Linked DNA regions of Homo sapiens. The protein of the gene in region 1 interacts with the protein of each later gene in a biochemical or structural test. Each region holds a gene or a part of one and is shown on either strand. Other genes may lie near its edges.

Region 1 (7,704 bases):
GCTGGGATTACAGGCGTGAGCCACCGCGCCCGGCCTAATATTCTTAAATGTCTCCATCTTCACCAAAAAAGCTGCAGAAATGTGCTCCTTCCCCAGATGCCACACATCATTTATCACGTGTCCGTTTGAACTAGTCACTAAGGAAAGTGCACATTGTTTCCTGGGCCATTTCAAGTACAGGCCAGCGGCAAGGATACAACATCCAAATGGTACTTACATTTAAACTTTTATCCATTTTGGCCGGGCGCAGTGGCTCATGCCTGTAATCCCAGCACGCTGGGAAGCGGGCCCATCACCTAAGGTCAGGAGTTCAAGACCAGCCTGGCCAACATGGTGAAACCCATCTCTACTAAAAATGCAAAAATTAGCCAGGCGTGGTGGCGGGCACCTGTAATCCCAGCTACTCAGAAGGCTGAGGCAGGAGAATCATTTGAACCCGTGAGGCAGAGGTTGCAGTGAGCCAAGATTGTGTCACTGCACTCTACTCCAGCCTGGGCAACAGAGAGAGACTCTGTCTCCCCCCCAAAAAAAAAAAAAAAAAAAAACACTTTTATTCATTTTGATAGTTTAAGGACTTTTTAAAACATGAAGCATTTAAAACAAACATGTAAAACAGACAAAACAGCCTTTCAGGTGATGGTAAATTCAAAACGTTTACTTAGGGCAGGTCCACACAAGACCTGCTCATTTCAAGAGGCCACTTCTGGTGACTCCTGTGATTGTGCTGATCTGTACTGGATGAGTCAGAGCCCAGCTTCCATCAGTGAGTAAATGTCACATGTCCCTCCCCAACCCCTGCTTTTTTCCGTAACAATTTCCCAGGTAAACCTGAAATGCCTAAAGAGCTGTTTAAATAACACTTTAATTTCATCACCCCCATAAAGCATTTCTAACCATTAGTCAGTAACTCGCACCCCTCCCCATTTCCAAAGGCAACACCCCATCTCACCTGCACTCTCCATTGCAAAATCAGAGTACTACTTGCCTCTAATTCAAATTCAGTCGGCAAAATTTCACTCAATTTAGATCAACAGGGCAGGTCACGGGGGCTCAAGCCTGTAATCCCGATACTTTACAAGGCCGAGGCAGGCGAATCACTTGAGCTCAGGAGTTCCAGAGACCAGCCTGGGCAACATGAGGAAACCCTGCCTCTACGAAAAATACACAAATTAGCCCAGCGTGGTGGACCGCACGTGTAGTCCCAGATACTCAGGAGGCTGAGGTGGGAGGATCGCTTGAACCCAGGAGGTAGAGGCTGCAGTGAGCCGAGATCACGCCACTGCACTCAGCCTGGGCAACAGAGCAACAGCCTGTCTCGAAAACAAACAAAACAAAATTTAGATCAATAAGCATTTCTGGCCGGACGTGGTAGCTCACACCTGTAATCCCAACCCTTTGGGAGGCTGAGGAGGGCAGATCGCTCGAGTCCAGAAGGTCGAGACGAGGCTGGGCAACATGGCGAGACCTCGTCTCTATAAAAAAAAATAAAAATTAGACGGGCGTGGTGGTGAGCACCTGTGGTCCCAGCTACTCGGGAGGATGAGGTGGGTCGATCACTTGAGCCTGGGAGGCGGAGGCTGCAGGGAGCCGTGATCGCTCCACTACACTGCAGCCTGGGTGACAGAGCCAGACCCTGTCTCAAAAACAAAACAAAACAAAGCTTTTTGCCTGTGAATTCCATGAACCATTCTACTTCCTACTGAAATACTAAGTGCCAACATCTACTGAGTGCTTCCTGCATACTAGGCATTGTATTATTTGTATTTTACATACGTCATCTCATTTAACCCTCACAACAACCCTGAGGTACTAACAGGTGCTAATCTATGTCACCGTCGGGAAACTGAGGCTTGGGCATGAAACGTGCCCAGGGGTTACATGGCTACTGAGTGGCTGCGGTGGGACTGGATCCCAGGCAATCCGACATAAGAGTTCCCATAACAACCGCTAATAATACAACTAAGAGAACAACTCAGTCCTTGGAGTAGTCTACAATGTGAGGTGGTATTATCACGGAGAGTCCACGTGCAGACCTTTCCCTGCAGGCACGCACGCTAGTAAGCATTTACTCGTAAGCATGCTTGCAGTTCAGAGCTTCTAGTCCACCCAGAAAACGCTTTCTATGCATTCCTCTGGATCTCCTTTTGTAGTCTTCCCAGGGATTGAAGACCTGGACACCGGCGCCAAATCTGAACAGACTCTCACTACACCAGTTCATGGAACAGGAAATCTCTGTCTCCGGCAACAGGTTAAGTCTGAAGACTGAGGCTACCTGCTGTCCAACAAACTTTAAAGGCTGACTTCAAAAGGCAGCCAGGCCTAGCTAATGCAACGGGGCCTTCCCTCGCCGCTCTTCCTGCGACAGGGGCGTTCCTGAAGGGAGGCTGAAGAGCAATGGGCCGACGCCGAGCCTGCCGCTCCCTCCCGGCGGGCACAGGAAAGGTGGAGCCCGCAGCCGTGGGTCCCGCTCCGTGGCGCGGAGGGCCGGGGTCTCGGCGCCGCCCCGTCCCCCGCCCCGCCACTGCGGCACGGCTGAGTCACCACCGCCTCCGTCCCGCGGCGGGGCCGCCCAGGCCAGAGGCCGGGAAGGTCGCGTCCCCCGGGCTTGGACAGCCGTCGGGGTCGGAGCCAGGGCTGGGGCCGGGGCTTCCAGGCGAGCCTCGCGCCCTGCTCGCTGTTCCGGGGCGGGGAACCTGCGGCTCGGGCCACTCACGCGGAGGCTCGGGGGAGTCTACGGGTGGCGCCGGGCCCGGTCCCCCGAGGCCGAAGGGAGCCGGGCACCAAGAAGCCAGGCTGGGCCACCCGCCGCCCCACACCGGCCCGGTCTCGCGGCCGCTCCCGCTCCGGCTCCTCACTCCTACCGCTCGCCGCCCCGCTTACTTGGCTTTGAGGCGCAGCAGCTCCTCAAACTGCCCGGCTGAGCCGACCTCCTCCACGGCCGCTACAGCTGCCTCAGCCGCCCCCGCCGCCATGCTGCCGCCGCCAGACAGAAGCAATCCAGTGCCGGCGGCCGGATGTGGGCGGGGCCACGGGGAGCTGAGCGGCTGCGCGAGGGAAAGCCCCGCCCCTGCCTGCGCTGAGGCTGCCGAGCCTGAGAAATCCCAAAAGGGGCCTCGGCGGCGGGCTCTGGATCCCGCTGGGGGGCTCTGACCCTGCCAAGTCTGGGCACTCCGCTGCGGGCCTCCTGGCTCCCGGGGTTCATGGCTGTTATGGTTCCTGGCTGTCGGGGCTCCTGGCTTTCGGGGCTCCCTGGCTGAAGGGGCTCCTGGCTGTAGGGGCTCCTGGCTATGGAGGTTCCCGGTTATAAGGGCTTCTGGATGTAGTGGATTCTGGCCGTCGAGGTCCCTGGCTGTCGGGGCTCCTGGCCGTAATGGCCCCTGGCTGTCGGGACCCCTGGGTGTCGGGGTTCCTGGCTGTCGGGACCCCTGGGTGTCGGGGTTCCTGACTGTAGGGGCTCCTGGGTGTTAGGGTTCCTGGCTATAGCAGGGGCTCCTGGGTGTCGGGGTTCCTTGCTGTCAGGGCTCCTGGTGGTAGAGGCTTCTTGCTGTTGGCTTCCTGGCTGTCGGGGTGACTGGGTGTCAGGGCTCCTGGTGTTAGGGTTCCTGGCTTCCTGGCTGTAGTAGGGGCTCCTGGGTGTCGGGGTTCCTTGCTGTCAGGGCTCCTGGTGGTAGAGGCTTCTGGCTGTTGGGGTTCCTGGGTGCCAGGGCTCCTGGGTGTCAGGGTTCCTGGCTGTCAGGACACCTGACTCCTGAGGCTCCTGGCTTTTGGGGCTCCAGACCTTCCTTGCACTTCCTGTGTCTCCTGGGTCTGTAATAGAAGGGGCCGGTGGAGGGGTGGGGGTGAGACATGTGAGTGAAAGTGAAGTCAGATGTGTACATTTAGGAAGCTGAAATTATCAAAAATGAAATTGCATAAAGGTGAGGAAGAACTGGGAGGTCTGGGAACAGAAGTGGTAGATCTTGAACTTCAACACAGACAGGGTGCTTCCAATTCAGTCCTGGGACCTGAACCCGGAGCCCACAGCATGTCCCTCCTCCCCTGGCCCTCCGCGCGTGCCGCCACTCATTGCAGCCCCACAGAGCCATCACCCATTGTAACCTCAGAACAGAAGGGGCTGGGTGGGTCCACAGATCCCTGCACTCCTCCCGTCTTGCCTCCTTGGATGATCCCTGGCTTGTCTTTCTCCCTTGGGAATCCCCCTGATGTTGGCTCTCCATGTGGTGTACTCTGTACCCCACACCCCATGCTTCCCACACACCTTCTGGCCTGAGTAATCTCCATGCCCCCAGTGACATCAACCTCCAGGGAAACCTCAATAGCAAGCCCAGAACCCTCCCCTGCATCCCAGAGCCTAGCATCCACTAACTTTGAGGAGGGGCCATCTTTTATTGGATATCCCCAAACCACACTGGGCCTTCCCTCCAAAGTGCCTCTCCTCTTGGTTCCCATCTCAGGGAACACCATCGCTCCCACCCAGACACTTGGGGCTCCTTCTGACTGGTCCCCCTGCTGTCCCTGGGCTTTGAGGCCAAGCCCCCACAGAGCCTTCCCTACTAGCCAGGTGTTCCCAGGCCTCCTTTGCTTGCTTCTACCGTGGCCTGTCTCATGTTGTAGAACTGTGCTTGTCCTCCATTGGCCTGTGTTCTTAAAGGGCAGGAGCTGATCTGTGTCTCAGTGCCTGGATCAGAGTCAGACACATAGGAGGTACTCAGTCCATGCTAACAGCTGCCAGAGGACTGGGCTCACTGGATTGCAAAGACTTCGTACGAGAAAAGTAGCATATCATTCATACTTTTTATATTGATTACATGTTGAAATGAGGATATTTGGATATATTCGGTTTTCTGAAATATATTATTTAAATTGGTCTCTTTTACCTTTGGCTCCTGAGAAATGTCTAATTTCATAGGCAACTTTCATTCGTGGCCCTTGAATTTTCTTGGGCAGCACTACTGTGGTGTTTAAAAGCCTTTTGGAGCCTGTCACATGTATACCTCACCTGGAGAAATACATGGTATTGAACACGGTAAATTGTGTTATTTAAAATGCAACAGGAGAGTGATGAGGAACCATTTTGTATCTTGCCTGTGGTGGTGAGAACACAAACTAAACATGATAAAATTGTATAGAACTTGGCTGGGTGCTCTGACTCACACCTGTAATCCCAACAATTTGGAAACCCCAGACAGGAGGATCACTTGAGCCGAGGAGTTGGAGACCAGCCGGGCAACATAGGAAGACCCGGTCTCTACAAAAATATATATATATATATGAGTCAGGCATGGTGGCTCACACTTGTGGGCCCAGGTAGGTGAGAGGCTGAGGTGAGAAGATCACTTGAGCCTGGGAGTTGGAGGCTGCAGTGAGCCATGATCCTGCCACTGCTACTGCCCACTAACCTGGGCGACAGAGCAAGACCCTGTCTCAAAAACAAAAACAACGCACACACACACACACACGCATGCACGCGCGCACGAGTACAAGTAAAACTGGGAAAATCTGAAAAAGATCAGTCGATTGTTTATAAATATCAACATCCTGGTTGCAGTATTACAGTTTTGCAAGGTGTTGTCATCGGAAGAAAGTGTACACAGGATCTGTATTATTTCTCACAACTGCATGTGAATCTACAGTTGTTTTAAACTAAAAAGTTTAGTTAAAAACCATGTAAATAAGACTTTAAAGTTTACTATGAAAAGAATGCAATAGGAGGGAAAAAAGACACCATGTCAAAAAAAAAGAAAAAGATACCATGTCATAAAACAAGATACACATTCTGGTTATCACTTTTTTTCTTTTCTTTTCTTTGAGATGGAGTTTTGCTCCTGTTGGCCAGGCTGGAGTGCAATGGCGTGATGTCGGCTCACCGCAACCTCCACCTCCCGGGTTCAAGCGATTCTCCTGCCTCAGCCTCCCAAGTAGCTGGGATTACAGGTGTGTGCCACCACGCCCGCCTAATTTTGTATTTTTAGTAGAGACGGAGTTTCTCCATGTTGGTCAGGCTGGTCTCGAACTCCTGACCTCAGGTGATCCGCCCGCCTCGGCTTCCCAAAGTGCTGGGATTGCAGGTGTGAGCCACTGTGCCCGGCCTGTGATTATCATTTTTAAGTAGAATTGAATGTAAATAAAACATATAACTATATCAGTGAATGGCTCATAGAAAAGGGTCTCCAGAAGGATGCTCCCCAAATTATTATCAGAGCTTGCCTCCAGAGGGCAGAAACAGAGGAGAGCTAAAGGGAGGCCCTTCACTTTGACTTACACACTTCTTTGTGTCATTTGCTTGTTTTCTAATAGCATAGACTGCTTTTGACATTTAAAAAATAATGAAATTGTATTGCACAGGGGAAATGTGCTATAGTGAATCCTTTTCAAAAAAAAAAGCAGTAATCACCCCTCAAATGTGGCTGTTTTATAAATGCTGATTTTTCTTTTATTTTTTATTTTTTGAGACGGAGTCTTGCCCTGTCACCCAGACTGGAGTGCAGTAGCGCGATCTGAGCTCACTGCAAGCTCCGCCTCCCGGGTTCATGCCATTCTCCTACCTCAGCCTCCCGAGTAGCTAGGAATAGAGGCGCCTGCCACCACGCCCGGCTAATTTTTTGTATTTTTAGTAGAGATGGGGTTTCACCGTGTTAGCCAGGATGGTCTCGATCTCCCGACCTCGTGATCCGCCCACCTCGGCCTCCCAAAGTGCTGGGATTACAGGCGTGAGCCACCGCCCCCGGCCCGCTGATTTTTCTTTTAAATGGAATTTGCTGAAAGTGGCACAAACCAGTTGCAGAGCAGACTCTAAAAAAAATGCTATGAAAACTCCTGGATAACACTTCCATTTCTGCCCTTTTTGTAGTTTATTATTGTAGGGGCCACAGGAAAGCTTCTCCTTAGCCCTCTGATGGTTTGCTGAAAATCACTGACAAAAGGCAGATTAATAGGAGAAAAGATAAACAAATTTATTTGATCACAGTTTCACGTGACACGTGAAGACTCAAAGATACAGGGAAAACTGTCCATTTGTATGCTTAGGTTCAACGAAGTATGGACAGTTATGTAGAAATACGATTGGACAAAATGGGTATGCTCTTATGCTAGCAGAACTCACTGGGGGCTTTGCAGATGCTGACGCCCCCCAGAACCCCCTGCTACCAGCCATGGTCAATCCCACCATGTTCTTCAACATGGCCGTCAATGGCAAGCCCTGGGGCCATCAAACAGCCCTTCGAGCTGTTTGCAGACAAGATTCCAAAGACAGCAGAACACTTGCATGCTCTGAGCACTGGAGGGAAAGGATTTTGTCATGAGGGTTCCTGCTTTCACAGAATTATTCCAGGGCTTATGTGTTAGGGTGGTGGCTTCACACGCCGTAATGGCGCTGGTGGCAAGTCCATCTACAGGGAGAAATTTGATGATGAAAACTGTAGCCTGAAGCATACAGGTCCCGGCATGTTGTCCAAGGCAAATGCTGGACCAACACGTACGGTTCCCAGTTTGGCATCTGCACTGCCAAGACTCAGTGGTTGCATGGCGAGCATGTGGTCTTTGGCAAGATGAAAGAAGGCATGAGGGTCCAGAAATGGCAAGACCAGCAAGAAGGTCACCATTGCTGACTGTGGACAACTCTAATAAATGTGACTTTGTGTTTTGTCTTTGAAAAGAACTGACTGGGAGAACCCAGCAAGGCTGGTCTGGTGTTCAGATTCTTCC
Region 2 (7,030 bases), on another chromosome or scaffold:
TTATAATTCAATGGCATGTTTTATTCTTAAAACAAGTTTCTAAATATATCAAAATATGAGACTTTAAAAAAGGCAACTTCCCAGCTGCCATTCAATTTAATAAACTACATAAAGTGCTCCCTGCCAAGTTCCAACATGCGCACACACATACACACACACACACACACACACACACACACACGATGGAAGTACAGCTTAACTGCAGTTACCATACCTTAGAAAGTATCAAATCGCCTAACCATCGCACACAATCAACATAATTCCTATGTATGTCTCTGGTAGAAAAATCAGGAAAATGGATTTTCTGAGAAATAAATGGCCTGAAGGAAGAATGGAAATGTAAAAAGTTAAAAGAAAAAATTATAGTAGAATCATACTCTTTTTCATTTTTGGATTTATAAAACTTGGAAAAACAAAATGTAAGACTATTAATTCCTCTGTGTTCCTACATAACCAACCACCTTATCTATTTATTGAAAGCTAAAGTCTCATTCCACTTTTGTTTATTTTTCTCCATTATTATCCAATTTTATCTTTGTCCTATGATAGATACTTTGTTTATAAACATTGTAGTTTCCTGCGTTTTACTATATATAACCCAAAATTAATCACCTCAATTCTGGGTACCCTAACCAATAATAAAGGCCTGATCAGTTTCTCACTGAAAATATACTAAGCTACCTACTCAGTCCTTAAAATTAAGCATTAATAATCTATGAAAGTCAATATATCTACACTATTTCAAAAGATAGTCATCTTTCCAGGAACAACTAAACATCATTCCAAAGTCTGCTAAAGATACATCTACAGTCCTGCCTTGAGCAATAATTTCTGAAAATGATGCCTTACAGGAATTTAAAATTTCTTAAGTGGGGGTGGGTGCGGTGGCTCCCAGCACTTTGGGAGGCCGAGGCAGGTGGATCATCTGAGGTCAGGAGTTCGAGACCACCCTAGCCAACATGGTGAAACCCCATCTCTACTAAAAATACAAAAAAAAAAAAAAAAAAAATTAGCCAGGCATGGTGGCGGCCGCCTGTAATCCAGCTACTTGGGAGGCTGAGGCAGGAGAATCGCTTGAACCTGCGAGGCAGAGGTTGCAGTGAGCCAAGATTGCACCACTGCACTCCAGCCTGGGAAACAAGAGCAAAACTCCGTCTCAAAAAAACAAATAGAACAAAATAAAATTTCCTAGGACTTTTCCAAATAATTTCTGTATTTAGGAAACTAAATGGCAACACTGTTTTCATTAGAGATATTTGTGAGAAGAAACAAAACAAGCTGCTATTAATTCTGGAGTTATTTAACAGTACACTTAACATTCCTAATATACTCAGTTTTAAATCAGAAATAGCTGTATAAGTATAATATGCCATGAATTAGTTGTCTTAGGCAATTCATATGTCCTCTCTTTACCTTTTCCCTCAGATATGTAAAAAAGCACTTTGGATTGGAGCAACTCAAAACAATCCTTCCAATTCAAATTCTGGGATATTTTGTTGAAACATTAAAATGTTATTCGTGATCTGATATAAATTCTTAACTCTGCTATAATTATATTAATTGCTTTTTAGCTAAATACATACTATAATTGTATGGCCAAACCTCTCTCAAAGAAAAAACGAGTACAACTGTTATTTTTTGAAAACTCTGAAATATAGTTTGTATTTATTCCAGATATCTAGAAAATAATCTAAAAATATAAATTTAACATTGTCCTACTAGCTCCTGGTGTTTTAAAGGAGAAAGGTAAAACTTTTAATAATTCTTAGAGGACACTTAGGTCTGATGAATGTTAGTGCATTGAAATATTTACTGATGCTTACAAATTTAATAATCTATTAACAATCTGGCTTGATAACCAGAAAATGAATTCTAGCTCTTTGCTAAAACAAAAGTGCCAACAAAGTTAACATGCAGACATACAACGTTTATAGTGAAAGTGTTAATGACAGCCTGATAAGATTCTAAAGACAGTTACTGCATTAAGAATTGAGACATTTCAAAAATATACTAAGAAAACTGCAAAATTCCCCAACCTATAGTACCATGAAGTGAGGCTCCTGCATTTGAATTCTCTCCATTTAATCAAGTGAGCATCATTTAGGGAAAAACATTATCATGAATTAGAGCTAAGAACTCCATTGTTTAAAACTGTGGTTTACCATCTTGAATTAGAATTAGCATCATTTAAAAAAAGTTAACATTATTCTAAAGTGTCCTTTACTCTCCCTAGTCCATAATAAGCTTAAGTGATTTAAAACTTTTACATTTATAACTTAAAAGGCCAAGCATATGCATACCAAAATACAAATAAGTAAAATGTGCTACTAAGTTAAGATGACAACACAATTTAAAGGGGATTTTGAAAACTAAGCCACAAACACTGCAAATAAAGGACTTCTTAAAGGGGTGAATTTTACAGTATGTAAATTGTCCCTTAAAGTTAAAAGAAGGTCTTCTAAACTCATTGTTGGGGCTTATATAGCAATTTTGGGAAAAAATAAAACTTATATTCAATAGCACAACATAGCAAATTGTTTCAAATACCACAACTGTTACCTGTTAGTTTTATTTGGATTATAATCATAAGATTCCTTAATTGCATTCATCATTCTCTTTGAATTGATCCTCCAAAGTTTAAGAGAATGATCCATACCACAGGACATTATTTTTTCACCCAAAAGATCATAATCCTGTATGCAAAACCAAAAAGTTTTATATAAATTACAGCTCCAAATTATATTTATCCAATTTTTGCCTAATGTGCAACATAGTGAAAACTGTATTTCAAATCACAATACAAACTACATTTTGGGTTTCATCTAAATAGGCCATAAATCAGAGTTTACTACTTTCAAGATTTACAGCTTTAATTAGTTTGTCAACATCGGAATATAAGAGCATTTACAATGTATAAACCAAGAAAAAATTACTTAAACTTAGTTTTATCTATTCAATTACACTAAAATATTTATTTTGCTTATTTTGAAGGTAAATTGAATACTAAGTTAAAATAATTATTCTGACACAAAGAGCTGAATAGTGATATTACTTTTCCTATCCAACCTCAACCAACCAATGAAACTGACATGTGCATGTGAAAATACATGAATCCTTAAAGAGCTGACATCTTACTTTATAATTCTAAGTCAAAATATTTTGAAGTTAGTTTTAGAGTTCACTTTTAAGTGAATTTTTAAAAGTCTAATAAAAAACAGATTTTAACTTTTTTCATTTGCTGTTTACTAATTTTTAACAGGCATGTAACAGATCATCTATTGTAACAACCTCATTTCATAGGCAGACACTAAGGCCCAGAGATGCTATTTAATTTAGCAAAAGGCACATAATGAGTAATGAAAATCTCACACACCTATCCACCTCCAGTGAACTCCTGTATTACACAGAAGAGCTACATACTGTCTCCTGCTCTCATTCTAAGAAATAACAGTAGAGAGTTCTATTGAAGGAGTATATTTTCCTTACTAACCTAGATACTATATGTTAATCCAGCCTTTGCATTAATTATGAGCACCATTTTATAAGAGCCTAAGAACTTTAGGCTTGATGTTTATTGAATTCACAGTTGTGGTACTTCTAATTACCTCACTGTCAACAGCAACAAGACATCCTTCGAGACAATACCACTAATTTGGAGTTATTAATAAAGAACAGTTCACTTGGCTTTTACACACATAAAGCCAGACGTAGAATGCTACTGCAACTTTTAGGAAATCCAAGTTGACAAGGTATTCGAAGGAAGGTATGATTCTCACAAAGGAATCCAAACTTCAACATAGGAATATTTTAGTACCTTCAACTAAAATGTTACATGCTGTAAAATATGGTGCCCCTTTACATAGTTTAATGGAAAACAACCTAAGAGATGTGAAATTACTACAGGAATCAAATGAGCTAAATATGGAACATAAGCAAAAATAATGTTAAAATCTGAAACCTAACTAAAAACACTTGTATAATGGACCAATGGATTACAATACATCAATATAAAGGTGGTATTTATCTTTAAACTGGTCTTGTATTATACCACGCCACCCAAAGAGAATGGCTAGAAATAAGTTACCTAAAACAGTGTGAGCACAATAAAACACTTCCAAATAGCAAAAAACGTTATGTTTCAACTTCAAACAAAAGATGGAAAAGCACTTTAATGGCTACATAGTTTAATTTTTTTCTTTAATAACTGCGAAATGGCAAAACAAACATTAACTTAGTGATTTTAGATTAAAAGGAAAGGAGCAAGATCATACTGCTCTCATAAGACTCCAGGGATTGGTATACAGTGCAAGTAATTTAAAAAATAAATAAATAAATATAGTCTTTACTTGTTTTATTCCTTCATCTGGAGATTAAAATCTTCTATGTCAAATGTAAGTGAATGTCTGCCTGACAGGCTACATGAAACACACTTTCTTATAAGGAAACAGTTCCATGGAGACTGTTCACAGCTATGTAAACCTGAAAGTCATTGCCCTGCAGTTTCCAACTTACAGCACTTAGAACTTCATCTCTGTGCCCTTCTACGCCTCCAAATATTGCCACCAGAGTGTCCGTCTGGATATTCCATAATCGTAAAGCATGATCTAGTATAAACATACAAAAATTAGGCGAATGTTTTTTATTTACTGTGAACTTTCAACATCTTGTGAAAGAAAAACTACTAAAGTCTAGATGTAAGTTATGCACAGTAAAGCCTAAAAATGGAATCCATATTACATAGCAACTTAAAATGTTTACATCAGATGTAGAATTAGCTAGGTAAGTGCTATAGTTTGAATAGGCCCCCCCAAAAGCATGTGCTAGAAACTCAATCCCCAATGCAATAGTGGTGTGAGCTGGGGCCTAATGGGAGGTATTTAGGTCATGGGGGCTCCATCCTCACAAATGGATTAATACTGATTATAAAAGGGCCTGAGGCTATAAATTCAATCTCTTGCTCCCTCACACCCTCTCCTGCCCTTTTGCTGAGACGATTCAGCATGAAGGCTCTCACCAGATGCCGGCACCATGTTCTTGGACTTCCCAGTCTCCAGAAACAGGAGCCAAATAAATTTTTGTTCATTATAAATCACCCAGTCAGGTACGGTGGCTCATGCTTGTAACCCCAGCACTTCAGAAGGCCAAGATGGGAGGACTGCTTAAGCCCAGGAGTTTGAGACTAGCCCTAGCAATATAGCAAGACCCTGTCTCAACAAAAAATTTAAAAATTAGTGAAGCCTGAGCAATAGAAAAGAAATTAATTAATCCATCAGTCAGTCACCTAGTCTGTGGTATTGTGTTATAGCAGCACAAAATGGACTCAGACAGAATGTTGGTACTCAGAAACGGGACTATTGCTATAAATACCTGAAAATGTGGAAATGACTTTGGAACTGGGTAACGAGGAGAGGCTGGAAGAATCTGGAGGAGCAGGCTAGAAAAAGCCTATATTGGTGTGAGTGGAGCATTGAGGGTAATTCCAGTGAGGGCTGAAAAGAAGACAAGAGCTTCAGGCAGAGCCTTTATCTTCTTAAGGATTACTTAAGTGGTTGTGATCAGAATGTTGGTAGAACAATGTTGGTCTCAGACAGAATGAGGTTGGTCTCATTCAGTGAGGTCTCAGACAGAAATGAGAAGTTATTGGAAAATGGAGTAAGAGCTATCCCTGTTGGCAGGGTGTGATGGTTCATGCCTGTAATCCCAGCACTTTGAGATTGAGGCAGGAGGATCACTTGAGGCCAGGAATTCAAGACCAGCCGGGGTAACATAGTGAGACCCAATCCCTACAGAAAATAAATTAGCCAGGTGTGGTGGCGTGTACCTGCAGTTCTAGCTACTTAGGGGACTGAGGCAAGAGGATCAATTGAGCCTAGGAGTTTTGGGCTGCAGTGAGCTATGATCATGCCACTGCACTGCCTGGGTGACAGAGACCAACCCTGTCTTTAAAAGAAAAAAAAAAAAAGCCAGGCCAGGTGTGGTAGCTCATGCCTGTAATTCCAGCAGCATGGGAGGCTGAGGTGGGTGGACACTTGAGCTCAGGAATTCGAGACTAGCCTGGGCAACATGGTGAAACTCCATCTCTACAAAAAATACAAAAACTAGCGGGGTGTGGTGGCATGTGCCTGTAGTCCCAGCTACTCGGGAGGCTGAAGTGGAAGGATCACTGGCATGGTGCCGGCATCCGGTGAGGGCCTTCATGCTGAATCGTCTCACAGCAAAAGGGAAGGAGAGGGTGTGAGGGAGCAGAGGTTGTGCCACTGCACTCCAGCCTGGGTGACAAGAATGAGACCTTGCCTCAAAAAAATAAATTAAATAAATAAATAAAAGCCATCCTTGCAATACAGTTGTGAAGAACTTAGCAGGACTGTGTCCATGCCCTAGGACTTTGTGGAAGGCAGAAGTTAAGAGCAATGAATCCAATACCTGGCAGAAGAAATATCTGAGCATCAAAGCATTCACAGTGATGCATGGCTTCTTCTGGCTGCTTATCATAAAATGAGAAATGATCTAAAGGTGAAATTTGTAATTAAAAAGGAAAGCAAAACAGAAACATTTATAAACTCTCAGCCTGGCCATGTAAAGAAAAAAAAAGCAGGCTGGGTGTGGTGGCTCACACCTGTAATCCCAACACTTTCGAAGGCTGAGGTGGAAGGATCATTTGAGCCCAGAAGTTCAAGACCAGCCTGGGCAACATAGCAAGTCCTTGTCTCTTCAAAAAATATATAAAATAAAAAAGCATGTTTGAGAGAGAATATTAAGGATGTAGCTAAGTGACTAATTGCTAAGGAGATTAATAGGGAAGAGAAGGCAGGTTCTATTCACCAAGACAATGGGATAATGACCACAAAGGCATTTCAGAGATCTTCAAGACATAGCTAAGACCTTGAGGGCAAGGTTTCCAGAGTAGCACCCATGGGACCTCTACATTCACTGTCCAGGGCCACTTCAGCACTTTGCTCCCCCTATTCCAAGGCAGTGCTCTTTGGTCACCCCATAGCTTGAAGGGGCTCAAGTATGGCTCAGGCCATAG

What was found. The genes of interacting proteins can lie anywhere in the genome.
Region 2: the proteins of GLRX3 (region 1) and EED form a complex in vitro, tested with the Homo sapiens proteins (one study listed by BioGRID).

Annotation. Positions count from the first base shown.
Region 1 is NC_000010.11:130,131,689-130,139,392, reverse strand, and holds the start of GLRX3 (glutaredoxin-3), read right to left. Parts: upstream 3,003-7,704; 5' UTR 2,973-3,002; coding exon 2,881-2,972; intron 1-2,880. UniProt on the Homo sapiens protein: Together with BOLA2, acts as a cytosolic iron-sulfur (Fe-S) cluster assembly factor that facilitates [2Fe-2S] cluster insertion into a subset of cytosolic proteins.
Region 2 is NC_000011.10:86,261,746-86,268,775, reverse strand, and holds part of EED (polycomb protein EED), read right to left. Parts: intron 4,605-7,030; coding exon 4,513-4,604; intron 2,694-4,512; coding exon 2,560-2,693; intron 321-2,559; coding exon 215-320; intron 1-214. UniProt on the Homo sapiens protein: Polycomb group (PcG) protein. Component of the PRC2/EED-EZH2 complex, which methylates 'Lys-9' and 'Lys-27' of histone H3, leading to transcriptional repression of the affected target gene.